Homo sapiens: one gene and its partners. The protein of the gene in region 5 purifies or fractionates together with the protein of the main gene of each other region. This does not show direct contact. Each region holds a gene or a part of one and is shown on either strand. Other genes may lie near its edges. The genes, in order: CEP135, ECH1, ITM2B, EIF4ENIF1 and MCRIP1.

Region 1 (3,518 bases), on a different chromosome or scaffold from region 5:
ATTAGAACTGTGAAGCCAGGTGGGGGAAGACTCAGTGGAGCGTGAGATAGTTTAGTAAATGAGATAGATGGACATGGGGACTGTGAGCAAAAGGCAGAAGAGATAGAGAAAAGTGGGAGTCAACCTTGAAAGTAACTAGAAGATTAAGGCAAAAAAGAGGATAATCAGGTTTCCTGAGGAAAGAATGGGATAGACTCCGGAGAGATTCAAGATGTATAATCAAGATAGTGAGTAAATGTAGATTTGGGAAGCAGAGGAATTCTCAGACTTCTCTTTCGAGTGAATGAGTTAGGTGGAGGGTGATACTATTTCTTAAGTTAGAGAATGTGGGAAGCAGAGCAGGAGTCCACTTTTGGATGTGTGGAGTATGCTATACCCACAAGACATTCATGTCTAAATTTTTGGCAAACAGTGGGATATGTAGATCTGTTCTCAAAAGTGTGGGCCCTGGTGGAGATGCAAATTTAAGAGTCATTGGAGTCTCATGGTAATTGAAGCTATGGGTGTAGTAAGAATTATCTAGTGAGATTATGTAGACTGGGAAGAGAGGAGACCCAGAGTCAGATGTGAGGGAAATTGGTATTTAAGGGACAGGTGGAAGAAGACAGTTTCTGAAAGAAACTGAGGAGCCACCAAGGAGGAAAACCAGGAGGTAAAGAAAGAAGGAATGGTTAGCTTTGTTCAGGTGTGTGAACAAACAGGTCATTTAAATACTTTTGGCCCAGTTTTCTTATCCTTAAAACTCCTTTTGTATACTCCTACCTCTGTAGGAGTATACAAAATTTGTTAGAATTCTAATGAGACAAAATTGTGGATTATGTTTGTTCTTCACAAGGATCTGCTGGTTTTTCAAATACACTTCTAATCTTGGCAAAATCCTTAAAGAGATAAATTGTCCATGTATTTTTGACCAAGACAAGATATATCTAGCCATAAGAAAATTTAGTCCTACTACTTGTAGAGGTTAAGAAAACATTCCCTCCTAATTCAGATTATAGCATGACTTTATATTATAGATGACATTCCATTCATTCTAACTTTGCTACTTACAATTTCAGTTATCTTTTATGTTGATATTAGCTAATAACCACGCATATTTTAGTTCTCACTGCCAGTTTTCTGCTAGTGATAATTTCTTGAGCTCATAATAGTGAACACCACAGGCACATTCAGCTTTTTTTTTTTGAGATGGAGTTTCACTCTTGTTGCCCAGGTTAGAGTGCAGTGGCGCAATCTTGGCCCACCACAACCTCGGCCTCCCGGGTTCAAGAGATTCTCCTGCCTCAGCCTCCCAAGTAGCTGGGATTACAGGTGCCCGTTACCACGCCCAGCTAATTTTTTTGTATTTTTAGTAGAGACGGGGTTTCACCATGTTGGCCAGGCTTGGTCTCGAACTCCCAACCTCAGGTGATCCACCCGCCTCGGCCTTCCAAAGTGCTGGGATTATAGGTGTGAGCCGCCATACCTGGCCGCATTCAGCTTTTAAACTTGCCAAAGTCTTATCCCCATCTAGTGGGCAAACATATTAAGCCTGGGCATATATGCCAAGCTTGCAGGCATATAAAACTTGTTTGATAACCATGTCTTGTTGAGGTTTTTAGGAATGCATTGTTTAGTTAAAGATCAGGGTGGATATTTATATATTGATGGAGAAAATATTTTGTCAATATGTATTATGAACTGCAGACACACTTTATAACCGAAAGGCTAACCTGGAATATTTAATTCTAAGACATGGTTTTGTTTCTTCTTAGTTTTTTAAGACACTCATTCTTTTTAGGTGGCAAGAAAAGAAGTATTGCTTTCAGGCGCCAGCGTATGCAAATTGATGAACCGGTTCCTCCCTCTGAAGTCAGTTCATATCCAGTTCCTCAACCAGATGACCCTTACATTGCAGACCTCCTTCAAGTGGCTGATAACAGGTGCATTAAATAATTCTTTCTTGGCTTGAGTTAATTGAGCACTCAATTAGCTGTAAGTTTCTTGATAGGAGGGCTTTTTTTCTTGTTAACTGTTGTGTCTCCAGTGTCTAGCACAGAACTTTGCACCGGCACTCAGTAAATACTTCCAGATTGATATAAAATGTTTTTACTTGTTTTGAAACTTTGATCAAATGGATCATATATCTAAGGTTTCTGTTCATACTGGCTTAAAAATTATTGCCATCAAGAACCTGTTTAAGTAGAGCTGCTTTGACATTTTGTGTTGTCTCCAAATAAGAGGTATCTTTTGCAAGAATCTTTATTGCTTCAGATTTGTGTCAAATGTCAGTTAAATATGAAGAGATGTGTAACTGGATTTGAAATTCCTTTTTTAATGGTTTCTCTAGCTCTGTGTTTATATTTCCTTACATTTGAATCATATATAAATTCCATTTGATTGAAATGTTATTAAACCTCCTGGGCAAGGCACTGTGTAAGTGTTCTGAGGATATAAAGATGAAGAAGATGGTGTTTCTGTTTTTGAGAAGCTTGTAGTCCAGTACTAGAGATGAGATGAGAAATTCACAAAACACCATTAAGAAAATTATAAGAGGCTCAAAGGAATGGATGAGCACTAGTCTCCACGGTGATAGCTGGAGAAGCATTTCAAACTGTAGAATACACTAATGGAAATAGTTCATGCAGGTAGCTTTTTATTTTGTAGATTATACAGAGAATGTGGGGGGTTTTATTAATCTCAATAGATAAAGCTAAAAAAGAGCACTGGGACCAGGTGCAGTGGATCACGCCTGTTAATCCCAGCACTTTGGGAGGCCAAGGCAGGAGGATCGCTTGAACCCATGAATTCAAGACCAGCCTGGTCAATATAGTGAGACCTTTTCTCTACAAAAAATTTAAAAATTAGCCGAGCATGGTGGCATGCACCTGTAGTCCCAGCTACTTAGGAGGCTGAGGTAGGCAGATCGCTTGAACCTGGGAGGCAGAGGTTGCAATGAGCTGAGATTGAACCACTGCACTTCAGCCTGGGACACAGAGCAAGACCCTTTGAGCTACTGATTAGGATCTCTTCACTCAGTTGTCACATAATATTTTTATATAGTTGTTTGACCTTAACTGGGAAGTGTTTTGTTCTTATTATCTAGGGCTTTTCAGATAATGTGTTTGTATTATTTAGGGAATTATTTGGGCTGCATAAGTGACATTAGTCTTTTTTAATTGTCCTGTTTAATTTATATATGCACATTTTGTTTGTATTCAGAGTCATTCATGCATTTATATGAGTGCAGTTGCATACATACTCTTCTCCTAAACCTAGATTAGTAGAAAATGTTGGTTCCAGTTAACATCAGGTACAAGCCGTATCCAGCCTCATTTACTCCACCCCATGGAAAATCTCTTTTAAAAACAAACCTGGGGCTGGAAGCACTGTGGTTCACGCCTGTAATCCCAGCACTTTGGTAGGCCGAGGCAGGAGGATTGCTTAAAGCCCAGGAGTTCAAGACCAGCTTCGACAATGTGGAAAAACTCTCTCTCTACAAAAAATTTAAAAATTACCCAAGTGTGGTGGCATGTGCC
Region 2 (3,518 bases), on a different chromosome or scaffold from region 5:
GGCTCCTGCACAGCCCGAGCCTCCCCGAGGAGCGCCACCCCCTGCTCGGCGGCGCCTGGTCCCATCAACTGCCCAAGGGCTGAGGAGTGCTCCGCCTGCGGCCCTGGTGCAGGATCCACTGGGTGAAGCCAGCTGAGCTCCTGAGTCTAGTGGGGATTTGGAGAACATTTATGTCTAGCTGAGGGACTGTAAATGCACCAATCAGCACTCTGTATCTAGCTAATCTGGTGGGGACTTGGAGAACGTTTATGTCTAGCTAAGGGATTGTAAATACACCAATCAGCACTCTGTTTCTAGCTCAAGGTTTGTAAATGCACCAATCAGCACCCTGTGTCTAGCTCAAGGTTTGTAAATGCACCAATCAATGCTCTGTGTCTAGCTCATCTGGTGGGGACTTGGAGAAACTTTATGTCTAGCTAAGGGATTGTAAACAACCAATCAGCACTCTGTGTCTAGCTCAAGGTTTGTAAATGCACCAATCAGCACCCTGTGTCTAGCTCAAGGTTTGTAAATGCACCAATCAGCACTCTGTATCTAGCTAATCTGGTGGGGACTTGGAGACTCTTTATGTCTAGCTAAGGGATTGTAAACAACCAATCAGCACTCTGTGTCTAGCTCAAGGTTTGTAAATGCACCAATCAGCACCCTATGTCTAGCTCAAGGTTTGTAAATGCACCAATCAGCACTCTGTATCTAGCTAATCTGGTGGGGACTTGGAGAATCTTTATGTCTAGCTAAGGGATTGTAAATACACCAATCAGCACTGTGTGTCTAGCTCAAGGTTTGTAAATACACCAATCAGCACCCTGTGTCTAGCTCAAGGTTTGTAAATGCACCAATCAGTGCTCTGTGTCTAGCTAATCTAGTGGGGACTTGGAGAAGTTTTGTGTCTAGCTCAGGGATTGTAAACGCACCAGTCAGCACCCTGTCAAAATGGACCAATCAGCTCTCTGTAAAACAGACCAATCAGCTCTCTGTAAAACGGACCAACCAGCAGGATGTGGGTGGGGACAGATAAGGGAATAAAAGCAGGCTGTCCGAGCCAGCAGTGGCAACCCACTCACGTCCCCTTCCATGCTATGGAAGCTCTGTTCTTTTGCTCTTTGCAATAAATCTTGCTGCTGCTCACTCTTTGGGTCCACACTGCCTTTATGAGCCATAACACTCACCGCGAAGGTCTGCAACTTCTCTCCAGAGGCCAGCAAGACCACGAACCCACTGGGAGGAATGAACAACTCCGGACGGGAGGAACGAACCACTCTGGACGCACCGCCTTAAGAGCTATAACACTCACTGCGAAGGTCTGCAGCTTCATTCCTGAAGCCAGCGAGACCACGAACCCACCAGAAGGAAGAAACTCTGAACACACCCAAACATCAGAAGGAACAAACTCCGAACACATCAGAAGGAACAAACTGCGGACATGCCGCCTTTAAGAACTGTAACACTCACCACGAGATTCTGCGGCTTCATTCTTGAAGTCAGTGAGACCAAGAACCCACCAATTCCGGATACATTTTGGTGACCCAGATGGGACTATTACCTATCGCCAAGCGGTGAGACCACTGCCTATCGCTGAGCGGTGAGACTATCACCTATCGCCAAGCAGTGAGTACCACTGGACCCCTTTCACTTGCTATTCTGTCCTATTTTTCCTTAGAATTTGGGGGCTAAATACCAGGCACCTGTCTGCCAGTTAAAAGTGACTAGCATGGCCGCTGGACTAAAGACATGGGTGTCAGGCTTTCTGGGAAAGGGCTCTCTAACAACTCCCGACTCTTTGGAGTTGGGAGCGTTGGTTTGCCTAGAACCAGCTTCTGCTTTTCCTGTACTTCTGGGCTGAGCCGAGGGTCGACAGAGAGGAAAGCCATGCAGCTCTAGGGTCCCGACAAGACAACAAGTTCGTTGACCCTGCAGCCATGAGCGGAACACTCAAAGGCATGTCGCCCAAGCGAGACTCGCCCATCTATCCTATCTATCCTGACTCTTGCCCCCGGGTCCTAATGCCTGCCAGACAAACTTCCTCTCACCTCTCTTCTCCGAGTTTAGTCCTGCTTCTAAAATTTGCTGTCTCTGGTGCTTTTCTAGTTTCTCCTATAAGAACGACTTCTAGAACTCTGTTACATTCTTTAGGCACCCAGGCTCACCAATCAGAAAGACATAATTTTTGCCCAAAGCCCTGTCATAGTGGCGACTACCTGGAATTTTACGATCCCTCCTCAGACTAACAGGCCTAACAAAGGTATTCCTGAAGCTAGGATATGGGGAGCCTCAGAAATTGTAGCTTTCCTATTCATATAAGTGAGGACAAAAGGTGTCACTCTTCCAACCCTGGAGATCCCTTCCCTCCCTCAGGGTATGGCCCTCCACTTCATTTTTGGGGCATAACATCTTTATAGGACAGGGGTAAAGTCCCAATACTAACAGGAGAATGCTTAGAACTCTAACAGGTTTTCAAGAATGCGTCGGTAAGGGCCACTAAATCCGACCTTCCTTGGTCCTCCATGTGGTCTGAGAGGAAAACTAGTGTTTCTGCTGCTGCGTTGATGAGCACAACTATTCCGATCAGCAGGGTACAGGGACTGTTGCAGTTTCTTGGGCAGGGGGAGAAACAAAACAAACCAAAACCGCGGGTGGTTTTGTCTTTCAGATGGGAAACATTCAGCCATCAACAGGCTCACCCTTGAAATGCATCCTAAGCCGTTGGGACCAATTTGACCCATAAACCCTGAAAAAGAGGAGGCTCATTTTTTTTCTGCACTATGGCCTGGCCCCAGTATTCTCTCTCTGATGGGGAAAAATGGCCACCTGAGGGAAGTACAAATTACAATACTATCCTGCAGCTTGACCTTTTCTGTAAGAGGGAAGGCAAATGGAGTGAAATACCTTATGTCCAAGCTTTCTTTTCATGGAGGGAGAATACACAACTATGCAAAGCTTACAATTTACATCCCACAGGAGGACCTCTCAGCTTACCACCATATCCTAGCCTCCCTATAGCTCCCATTCCTATTAATGATAATCTTCCTCTAATCTCCCCTGCCCAGAAGGAAATATGCAAAGAAATCTCCAAAGGACCACAAAACCCTCCTGGCTATTGGTTATGTCCCCTTCAAGCTGTAGGGGGAGGGGAATTTGGTCCCACCCGGGTACATGTCCCCTTCTCCATCTCTGATTTAAAGCAGATCAAGGCAGACCTGGGGAAGTTTTCAGATGATCCTGATAGGTACATACATGCCCTACAGGGTCTAGGGCAAACTTTCGACCTCGCTTGGAGAGATGTCATGCTACTGTTAGATCAAACCCTGGCCTTTAATGAAAAGAATGCAGCTTTAGCTGCAGCCTGAGAGTTTGGAGATACCTGGAATCTTAATCAAGTAAATGATAGAATGACACCTGAAGAAAGGGACAAATTCCCTATCGGTCAGCAAGCCATCCCCAGTATGGATCCCCACTGGGACCTTGACTTAGATCATGGGGACTGGAGTCGTAAACATCTGTTGACCTGTGTTCTAGAA
Region 3 (3,518 bases), on a different chromosome or scaffold from region 5:
TACAGCATAATAAAATATTTTGAGAAACCACCTTCACATAACTTTTATTATAGTATTTTGTTATAACTGTTTTATTATTATTGTCGTTAATCTATTACTGTGGCTAATTTGTAAATTAAATTTTAACATATGTATATATGTACACTAACAGGAAAAAACATAGTATATACAGGGTTTGGTACTATATGCAGTTTCAGACATCCACTGGGGGTCTTGGCATGTATCCCCCACGGATAAGGGGGGACTACTGTCCTATAAGATCATGTTAATTTTCTTAGATGTGATAATTATGTGGTTACGTAGGAGGACAACTCATTCTTGAGAGATAATAGCATAAGTACTTATGTCAAATGACAGAAAAAGAGATGAAGCAAATATGGCAATATTTGGAACAAAGTGGAGGATTTTGGGTATTCAACTTTTCTGCATTACATAAAAATGCTCAAAAGCTGGGGAAAAATATAGAATGAGAACTTAAAAACAGATTAACAAAATTATTGATTTTGAAAATGCTACCAAGAAACAGGAACATAAATTACCTCTTATCTAAGAAAATGTGGGAACATATAAAAAATATTAGTTTGCCAGCAAAGGAGGAACAGTCATGAGGTGGGCTTTAAGAGTAGGTAAGGCAAGGGGAAGGAGAGATAAGATATGAGAAGGCTGCATCAGCAGGGTCTGCTTCAGACATAGCAGAGCCCACCAAATGCTGACAGTTTATTAAACTAAACTCTAAATATAATAAATTAGCAAATATTGAAATTAAAACTACAAAAAGCATAAACTACAGAACCTGCATTCTTTCTACAATTCTGGACACTTGGCTCACCTTGTTAAAGTCATGAACAATGTTGGCAGGATCACTATCTGCAAACTCTGGGACAGGCACACTGATAAATTCAACTTCTTCTTCTTCAAAGATTTTAATATTTTCTTCAATTGTCTGGTAGAGAGCAGCTGGGGCATCTGCAGAGGGCTCATTTAAGATGACATCATCTTTGATGTACTTTATTCCACAGTAGTACACGTCATCTGGCTATAGAGAGTTTAAAGACTCATTTCAGCAATTCAGCATGAGACAGGTTTTTAAATAAGCATTACTTAAGCTGCCACCTCTATCTAAATAGCATTTTGCTTGCAAACTCTTGCTTTTAGATGACAAGTCAGACAGTTTAATTACAGAGTTAACATATTCTTTAAGATCAGGTTTTGAAGCACTGTAAAAGAACAGCTTCAGAAGAAAGGCAGCTGGTTTTCCCTTTACTTTTCCTGGTAGGTGAAAATAGAACATAAAAATAATTAGCTATCCAGTAACAAATAAATATAAAGAAACAACAGACCTACTCTACCTGTAAGCAGTTTTTATAGAAGAATACATTCCAAAACTAGTCAAGTTTTTCTGAAAGAATATATTAAAAAGTTTTGATATGGTCTACTAATTAAATGACTTTTTTCTTATTAGCCAAAAAAGGGATAATTTTTCTGAAATTTCTATATGCATATACGTAGTTCTACTTTTCCCTTTATATCACAATTCAGTGGAAAATATTAGATTACAGCAAATCTTTATGCTACTGTCTCACTTTTACAAAAAGAAAAAACAGTACATAAGGTCGGGTGCAGTAACTCATGCCTGTAATCCTAATACTTTGTGGGGAGGAGGCCTGAGACAGATGGACTGCTTGAGCCCAGGAGTTCAAGACCAGCCTGGGCAACATGGTGAGACCCTGTCTCCACAAAAAATAAAAAAATTAGCTGGGTATGGTGCCACGCACCTGTAGTCCTAGCTACTCCTGGGGAGGTTGAGGCGGGAGGATTGCCTGAGCCCAAGAGGTTGAGGCTACAGTGAGCTGTGATTGCACCACCGCACTCCAGCCTGGATGACAGAGTGAGACCCCATCTCAAAAAAAGCCAAACACACAGTACATGTACACGTGCGCGCACGCACACGCGCGCGCACACACACACACACACACACACACTACACACACTACACACACAATAAAGACTAAGGGTATACAAAATGTGAATGCACAGGGCCAGGCATGGTGTGTCACGCCTGTAATCCTAGCACTTTGGGAGGCCAAGGTGGGTGGATCGCCTGAGGTCAGGAGTTTGAGACCAGCCTGGCCAACATGATGAAACCCTGTCTCTACTAAAAGTACAAAAATTAGCCAGGAGTGGTGGCAGGTGCCTGTAATCTCAGCTACTTGGGAGGCTGAGGCAGGAGAATTGCCTGAACCCGGGAGACAGAGGGTGCAGTGAGCCGAGATCGCGCCATTGGACTCCAGTCTGGGCAACAAGAGAGAAACTCTGTCTCAAGAAAAAAAAAAAAGTTAATGCACCAAATGTTATCTCTGGAAAATGGAATTGCGATGATTTTTTCTATACTATATGTATTTCTTGTAAATAAAACTGTATTTAAAAAGATGACTAGTATTTTGGTAATGTCTATCAACATGTGATTGATTATCTTGAACAACACAGAAAATGAGCATGAAATTGAGAATGTTTCAAAATTAGTTAAATTATTTTAATAAGTCTAGTTGTCAACTGTTTCTCCAAATTTTGAAACAGCTGAAGTAGTCATAAAACCTTGAAAGTAATTTCCCCTTCAAAACTCCTAAAAAAAAAAATTGTGTATTATTGCCAAGAGAAATATATTACAAAATAGATTGTAAATTATAATCAATCACAAGGAAGACCTTTGTCTTAACCCACTGGGATTACTATTAAACACTCAAAGTTATAAACAACTTTCATCCTATGTTATTTCAATATCACTGCTGAAGTCACCCAGTTCTTTAGTGAAACCATGACTGGAAAAGAAGCAGAGACATGGTCTTACTGTATTCTGGGCCCAAGGGTACAGCAGGACCATAGGGGAGTCCAAGCTGACTATCAAGTTATGGCCTATCAACATGAAAACATTTGTGGCTGATGTATTTATTCAACTGGCAATTGATAATACTATTCCTCTCAACCCTTAATTATAGTAGGAAAATAAAGGTTAGTAAAATCACCCAATGACCTAAATAAATCCCTTAGTCACCAACATTTCAAGTTACTCTGCTTTTAGTGACTGTGTGTGATGGGCTCAGCAAACATATCATGGAGAGATGTTTAAACACAGCTTTAAAATAGAACTACCACTCTGGCTGAAGGTCACAGATAAAAAGTACAAGCTTAGCGCAAGTTGTAAACAATTTTGTAATGCACATCGGGAGAGGCAAAAAAAAAAAAAAATCAGAGACACAAAATAATTTTTCCACTTACTTGAAGTGCAAAATATTTGTACAAGTATGCTCCTCCTAGAATAACACCTGCAAGCATAAATGCTAGTCCAAAGCACATGCACCAACACCAGGCTCTTCTTTGGCCAACTGGTACCACATCATCTGGGTCCTAAAATATGAAAAAGACAGTTAAATATCTTATCTCCAGACAGAATAACAGAAGGCTCAGGACTAGAAAAACCTTAATGATTATCATTTTAATAAATGAAGACACAAAGACCA
Region 4 (3,518 bases), on a different chromosome or scaffold from region 5:
GACTACAGGCAATACGCCACCATACCTAGCTAATTTTTAAATTTTTTTTGTAGTGACAGGGTCTTGTCATCCTGCCCAGGCTGGTCTTGAACTCCTGGGCTCAAGCAATCCTCCCATCTCAGTCTCCCTAACTGCTGGGATTACAAGTGTGAGCCACCACACCCAGCGAGCAGGTGATCATTTCTTAAGCCAATGGTTCTCAAACTTGAACCAGAGCCAGAATCCCCTGAAGAGCTTGTTAAATGCAGACGGTTAAGCTCTACTCCCCAAGTTTCTCCTTTAATACCACTGAGAAGAGGCCTGAGATTTGTATTTCTAACAAGTTACCAGATGATGCTAATGCTAGTTCAGGGAGCACACTTTGAGAACCACTGTCTAAACCACTCTTAAACCATAACTTTCAGGTGAGACCCCACTCTATAACCTCCAAAAGTCCTTCAACATGATCCGATCACTTTAAAAATGCATACTTAGATACTACCAAAATATAGCTTTTGGTCTTAGGAATGTGGCCTAGAAAACAGACCAGCATTTATAACTTAGGGGTTCAAGACCCTCAGGGTAACAGGTGCATATGATAAACCCATTTATAACCATCCCACAATGAGATTTAGGAGTAGGTCTGAATGCACCCAATGTGACTCTAACTTGAGGTCCTAAAATATTCTTCGAAGCACAATGAACATCATCTGAACCCCAAAGAATAACTATGCATCTGAGTTACTTGACACCACCAACACCATTTATCAAGTTCTCTAAGGAAGACCAAAGCCTTGATACTTAAAGTATAGTCAGTGGACCAGCAGCATGTGCACCACTTGGGAGTGGGTTAAAAAGTAGAATCTTCAGGACCACCCCTGCTTACCACTCAGAATTCCTTTCCCAAGGCCTAAAGGTGATCCCCCAGGCATATTAACATTTGCGAAACAAGCTAACTAAAGGATGTCTTCACACAAAAGGAAACTCTGGTACATTACTCTGAAAAGCACCTGACCAAAACATTTATACTTCTTCTACTCATGGGGGAAAAACAAAAACTCTTCGAATTCTGAACAACAAACTACTAACATTATCCCAGAAAGCAACTGAACACTAAACTAAGAAGGGTCAATGGTTAAGGGGCCCTCTCATCTGGCCAACGTGTTTTTTTGACCCTGTAAGTAAACATACACAGCTACAAGTTTCCACAGAATACACCACCTATTTAAAAAAAAAAAAAAATCACCGGCCGGCTCACACCTGTAATCCCAGCAGTTTGGGAAGCCAAGGTGGGCGGATCACCTGAGGTCGGGAGTTTGACACCAGCCTGACCAACATGGAGAAACCCTGTCACTACTAAAAAGACAAAAATTAGCCGGGCGTGGTGGCGCATGCTTGTAATCCCAGCTACTCAGGAAGGTGAAGCAGGAGAATAGGTTGAACCTGGGGCGGAGGTTGCGGTGAGCGGAGATGGCGCCATTGCACTCCAGCCTGGGCAACAAGAGTGAAACTCCACCTCAAAATCACCAGTGAAAACAGTTTCCCTCTACTGCTTCTAGATCTTCTAGCCCGTGAACTTGAAGTGGCAGAAACATCATTAAAGTCTATTTATTCCAGTACTTTGATCTCAGTACATAGACAAGGAAGAAGGATGGTTTGAATATTATTCCAGTTGTGGAACTAACATATTTATTATAGTGCTAGGAACACATAATCATTTCAAGCTCTCTTTAAAGGGAGAAGACTTCTTTATCCCCAAGTCCCGCATAGAATTACTAGAGTGTTGAAAACCATGAAAGCACTACCCTAACACTGCCTAAACACTATCCTAAAATTGTCATTAACTAAATCCTCTTAAGAGTAGAAAGTAAACCTATTTCCAATTAATTTGGTAGAAAAGACTTAAATCTAAGCTCCACTGTCATTAAGCTAAAAAATGCTTTTAACCAGTTCTTCAAGGCACATTTATCTACGTATGACAGAATTCTGAGGCTGGACTGTCAAAAATGGACAATACTGAGGTTCTTAATCTTTACTGCAAAGAAACATAAGTCCTACCCTAAGAAAGAGAAATATCTCCCTAAAAATGATGTAAGCATAAAGATAGAAACATACACAAAGATGAAATATACATGTTAACCTCTGATCGGTGTGTGAAAGTGATTCAAAAGCCTCTCTGCCTGGACTCTACCAGTAGACTACTGGTTAGAACTTTAGTGAAAAAAATACTGGAAAGGGTGGGTGTGGTGGCTCACACCTATAATCCCAGCACTTTGGAAGGCTGAGGTGGGTGGATCACCTGAGGTCAGGAGTTCAAGACAGGACTGACCAACATACAAAATTAGCCAGGCATGGTGGTGCATGCCTGTAATCCCACCTACTCAGGAGGCTGAGGCAGGAGAATTGCTTGAACCCGGGAAGCGGAGGTTGCAGTGAGCCAAGATCGTGCCATTGCACTCCAGCCTGAGCAGCAGGAGTGAAACTCCATCTCAAAAAAATAAAAATAAAAGTACTGGAAGGGGCCAGGCTCGGTGGCTCACACCTATAATCCCAGCACTTTGGGAGGCCTAGGTGGGTGGATCACCTGAGCTCAGGAGTTCAACACCAGCAACACAGTGAAACCGTCTCTACTAAAAATACAAAAAAAAATAGGCCAGGTGCAGTGGCTCACACCTATAATTCCAGCATTTTGGGGGGCCGAGGCGGGTGGATCACCTGAGGTCAGGAGTTCGAGACCAGCGAGGTCAGGAGTTTGAGACCAGCCTGGCCAACATGGCAAAACCCTGTCTCTACTAAAAATACAAAAATGAGCTGGGCGTGGTGGCACATGCCTGTAATCCCAGCTACTTGGGAGGCTGAGGCAGCAGAATCACTTGAACCCCGGAGGCGGAGACTGCAGTGAGCCGAGATAGCATCATTGCACTCCAGCCTCGGCGACAAGAGCGAAACTCCGTCTCAAAAAAAAAAAAATAAAAATAAAAATAAAAATACAAAAACAAAATTAGCTGGGTGTGGCAGCGTGCACCTGTAGTCCCAGCTACTTGGGAGGCTGAGGCAGGAGAATCGCTTGAACCAGGGAGGCAGAGGTTGCAGTGAGCCGAGATTGCACCACTACACTCCAGCCTGGGCGACACAGTGAGACTCCGGCTCAAAAAAAATAATAAACAAAAAGTACTGGAAGGGGGCCAGGTGCAGTGGCTCACACGTGTAATCCCAGCACTTTGGGAGGCTGAGGCAGGTGAATCACTTGAGTTCAGGATTTCAAGACCAGCCTGGCCAACATGGCAAGATCCCGTCTCCACTAAAACTACAAAAATTAGCTGGGCATGGTGGCGCACGCCTGTAGTCCCAGCTACTTGGGAGGCTGATGCAGGATAATCACTTGAACCCAGGAGGCAGAGGCTAGTGAATCAAGATCGCACCATTGCACTCTGGTGATAGAGCGAGACTCCGTCTCAAAGAAACAAAAAAATAAGTACTGGAACGGCTGGGCGCAGTGGCTCACGCCTGTGATCCCAGCACTTTGGGAGGCCAAGGCG
Region 5 (3,518 bases):
CCAACGCACTCCAGCCTGGGCGACAGAGCAAGACTCCATCTCAAAAAAAAAAAAAAAAAAAAGGCCAGGCGTGGTGGCTCACGCCTGTAATCCCAGCACTTTGGGAGGCCGAGGCGGGTGGATCACAAGGTCAGGAGTTCAAGACCAGCCTGGCCAATATGGTGAAACCCTGTCTCTACTAAAAATACAAAAATTAGCTGGATGTGGTGGTGGGCACCTGTGGTCCCAGCTACTCAGGAGGCTGAGGCAGGAGAAGTGCTTGAACCTGGGAGGCGGAGGTTGCAGTGAGCCGAGATCGTGCCACTGCACTCCAGCTTGGGCGACAGAGCAAGACTCCGTCTAAAAGAAAAAAAAAAAAAGCCAGGTACGGTTGCTGGCCTATTAAAATAGGCCTGTAATCCCAACACTTTGGGAGGCTAAAGAGGGCAGATCACTTGAGCCCAAGAGTTCAAAACCAGCCTGGGCAACATGGCAAAATCCCATTTCTTTTATTTATTTATTTATTTATTTATTTGAGATGGAGTCTCGCTCTGCTGCCCAGGCTGGAGTGCAGTGGCGCCATCTTGGCTCACTGCAAGCTCCGCCTCCCGGGTTCACGCCATTCTCCCGCCTCAGCCTCCCAAGTGGCTGGGACTACAGAAGCCCGCCACCACGCCCAGCTAATTTTTTGTATTATTAGTAGAGACGGGATTTCGTCCTGTTAGCCAGGATGGTCTCGATCTCCTGACCTTGTGATCCACCCACCTGGGCCTCCCAAAGTGCTGGGATTACAGTCGTGAGCCACCACGCCCGGCCGGCAAAATCCCATTTCTACAAAAATATAAAAACTTTGGCAGGAGTGATGGCTGAGGTGGTAGGATTGCTTGAGCTTGGGAGGTGGAGGCTGTGGTGAGCCATGATCATACCACTGCACTCCAGCCTGGGTGACAGAGGGAGACTCTGTCTCTAAGTAAATAAATTTAAAACCCCATAAATATATACACCTATTGTGCACCCATACATTTTTTTTTTTTTTTTTTTTTTGAGATGGAGTCTCGCTCTGTCGTCCAGGGTGGAGTGCAGTGGCGCGATCTTGGCTCACTGCAAGCTCCGCCTCCCGGGTTGACGCCATTCTCCTGCCTCAGCCTCTCGAGTCGCTGGGACTATAGGCGCCCGCCACCACGCCCAGCTAATTTTTTCTATTTTTAGTGGAGATGGGGTTTCACTGTGTTAGTCAGGATGGTCTCGATCTCCTGACCTCGTGATCCATCTGCTTCGGCCTCCCAAAGTGCTGAGATTACAGGTGTGAGCTACCACACCCAGCTGCACCCATACAGTTTTTTAAGTCAACAAGGAGTCTCGTTTGCCTCCTCTTGTTAGGAAAAGAAATGTACCCACACCCTCAATACCACAGGCTGTGTCCTCTAAGTCTTCCCAGACACGAAGAGCCCTTCCCACCTCTCCCTACTTCTTCCTCCAGCTTAGGGACCCCCAGGGCCTCACACTGCCCCCCCACCCCCCGACCCTGCACACATAGCCCCAGGCTTTCCTGGATGTGCCAGCAGTTCCAAGAGGCCAGGGGCCTGCTGTCCCCCTGGAAGCACAATAAACGGTTCTGCAGCTCATTCAGCCTCACTGCCTCCTGGGGCCCTGCCAAGGAGCTGGGTGCCCAATTCTGACCCAGAAGGAATTTTCCATTAAAAATCAAGTATCTGTGCACAACCTATGACCCAGCCATTCTGCTCCTAGGTACACACACCCAAGATGCGTACAAGGACAGCTGGAGAATTTCACTCGTAATTACCCAAAGGGAAGAGCCACCGCAGAAGGGTAGCAATGCACACCTGGCCTATTCCCATAAGGGAATCAGCAGCCAGAGGGGGCACCACAGCCCCCACGCAGAGACGGACACCAAGCACAAGAGCAGGACCTGAGGGGCCACAGACAGGCCCTGGGACACATGGAATGGGAGGAAGCTGCAGAGGGCCGAGGCATGGACATAACTGGAGCCGGGGCCAGGACGGTGCCTGTGAGGGCAGGAAGGAGCCATCCACGGAGAGGGCTGGAGGTCAAGCAAGCTCTGAACCAAGAGGTCACCATGGAGCCACAATAAGGCCTCCAACAACCTCAGCGGGGCGGCCTAGCATAGTGAGGCACACAGCTGAGGGGGGAGGGCAGGAAGTGTGGCTGGCAGGCAGCTCAGCCCTAGCTCAGGCCTGGTGGGCAGCAGGCTGGTGTCTGGCTAAGCAGAGGGAACCCTGAGGCACAACATCCATGCATGGGGTCCCTGAGGTGGTGGATGTGGAGGGACCCAGGACCATAGTGGGTGAGAGTGAGCAGGGGACAATGGCACAGGCCCAGAGAAGCGCCGGGGGCAGCCGGAAAAGACCCAGCACACGGCAGACGGCCACCTGAGGTGGCAGCCCCTGAGCCAGCAGGAGACTGACACCTCAGCTGCCCAGGTAAAGGGGAGTGGCGGCCTGACCGAGGCCGACCACAGGTGAAGGGTGGGAGGGAGGGGCTCCATTCAGCCCAGAGAGACAGCCCCACTTCAGAGGTCTCGAGACCCCATCCAGCCCGGCCCCCTGCCTTCATCCCACCTGGGCCACCACCAGGGTGACAGCAGTAAGGGAGGGTCAGGCGATGCCTCGGTCCCGTTTTCCTTCCCTCTTTCTGTCAGAATCAAGACCGAGCATGCCGATGTCCCGGCCACGGCCCCGTACTCCTCAGTCGCTACACCACACCCCACTGCCTCTGAGAGTTTTCTTTCATAGTTTTCATATTTTAACATCTTTGAAACTGGGCTGCGCCTGACAATTGCTAACACGTCAGAATTTAACCAATGGTGGTTTTTATTTCTCAATGTACTGTAAAATATAGCGCAGCTCACAATGGCTGGGGTCTCACATGGGAGGACCCTCGATGACACTCTCCTGGCCCAGGACCACCCTTCCAGAGCCCCTCAGGCTACATGGTCTTTAGGTGTTTTCTCCCCTTCCCCTCAAAGTCTTCCACATCCCACGCCACCCCACCCCACCCAGTGCTGGGACAACCTCCAGTTCCAGACACCCAGCATCAGGACAGGTGGACACAGATGTCTACATGATCTTCCTGAAACCCTATCCCCAAGTCACTTAGCACTAGGGTGTCACCCAGGCCCTCTGCTGCCATCAAGCCCACTGTCCAGTCCCAACTTGTTTTACCAGGTGTCACCTGCTGCTCCACTCCTGCCCCAACAGCCTTTGCCACAGGACTACCTGCCACCAGCCACACAGAGCACAGGCCACCTGCAAGTCTGTGCATTCTGCAGGACGTGACTGCCTGCTTCCGTGGCCGTCCAGCCTACAGGGCCTGGCCTACTGGGCTGCAGGTATTCCCCTGCTCTGGGGCCCCGGGCAAGCTCCTCTGAGCCTCAGCATCCTCATTCAAAGTGATGCAGCCCACAGGTAGGCTCGCCTGCTCCAATAGGGACGGAAGCACAGCCATGGAAAGCCAGCAGCTCAGTGAGGTCTCTGTGGCTCCTTATCCAATACGATGAT

What was found.
Region 1: the proteins of MCRIP1 (region 5) and CEP135 purify together in Homo sapiens (co-immunoprecipitation; one large-scale study listed by IntAct). This does not show direct contact.
Region 2: the proteins of MCRIP1 (region 5) and ECH1 purify together in Homo sapiens (co-immunoprecipitation; one large-scale study listed by IntAct). This does not show direct contact.
Region 3: the proteins of MCRIP1 (region 5) and ITM2B purify together in Homo sapiens (co-immunoprecipitation; one large-scale study listed by IntAct). This does not show direct contact.
Region 4: the proteins of MCRIP1 (region 5) and EIF4ENIF1 fractionate together in Homo sapiens (co-fractionation; one large-scale study listed by IntAct). This does not show direct contact.

The regions. Positions count from the first base shown.
Region 1 is NC_000004.12:55,955,443-55,958,960, forward strand, and holds part of CEP135 (centrosomal protein of 135 kDa), read left to right. Parts: intron 1-1,780; coding exon 1,781-1,922; intron 1,923-3,518. UniProt on the Homo sapiens protein: Centrosomal microtubule-binding protein involved in centriole biogenesis. Acts as a scaffolding protein during early centriole biogenesis.
Region 2 is NC_000019.10:38,821,790-38,825,307, forward strand, and holds part of ECH1 (delta(3,5)-Delta(2,4)-dienoyl-CoA isomerase, mitochondrial precursor), read right to left. Parts: intron 1,609-3,518; exon of another isoform or gene 1,051-1,608; intron 1-1,050. UniProt on the Homo sapiens protein: Isomerization of 3-trans,5-cis-dienoyl-CoA to 2-trans,4-trans-dienoyl-CoA.
Region 3 is NC_000013.11:48,253,695-48,257,212, reverse strand, and holds part of ITM2B (integral membrane protein 2B), read right to left. Parts: intron 3,406-3,518; coding exon 3,277-3,405; intron 1,037-3,276; coding exon 830-1,036; intron 1-829. UniProt on the Homo sapiens protein: Plays a regulatory role in the processing of the amyloid-beta A4 precursor protein (APP) and acts as an inhibitor of the amyloid-beta peptide aggregation and fibrils deposition. Plays a role in the induction of neurite outgrowth.
Region 4 is NC_000022.11:31,483,335-31,486,852, forward strand, and holds part of EIF4ENIF1 (eukaryotic translation initiation factor 4E transporter), read right to left. Parts: intron 1-3,518. UniProt on the Homo sapiens protein: EIF4E-binding protein that regulates translation and stability of mRNAs in processing bodies (P-bodies). Plays a key role in P-bodies to coordinate the storage of translationally inactive mRNAs in the cytoplasm and prevent their degradation.
Region 5 is NC_000017.11:81,826,776-81,830,293, forward strand, and holds part of MCRIP1 (mapk-regulated corepressor-interacting protein 1), read right to left. Parts: intron 1-3,518. UniProt on the Homo sapiens protein: The phosphorylation status of MCRIP1 functions as a molecular switch to regulate epithelial-mesenchymal transition. Unphosphorylated MCRIP1 binds to and inhibits the transcriptional corepressor CTBP(s).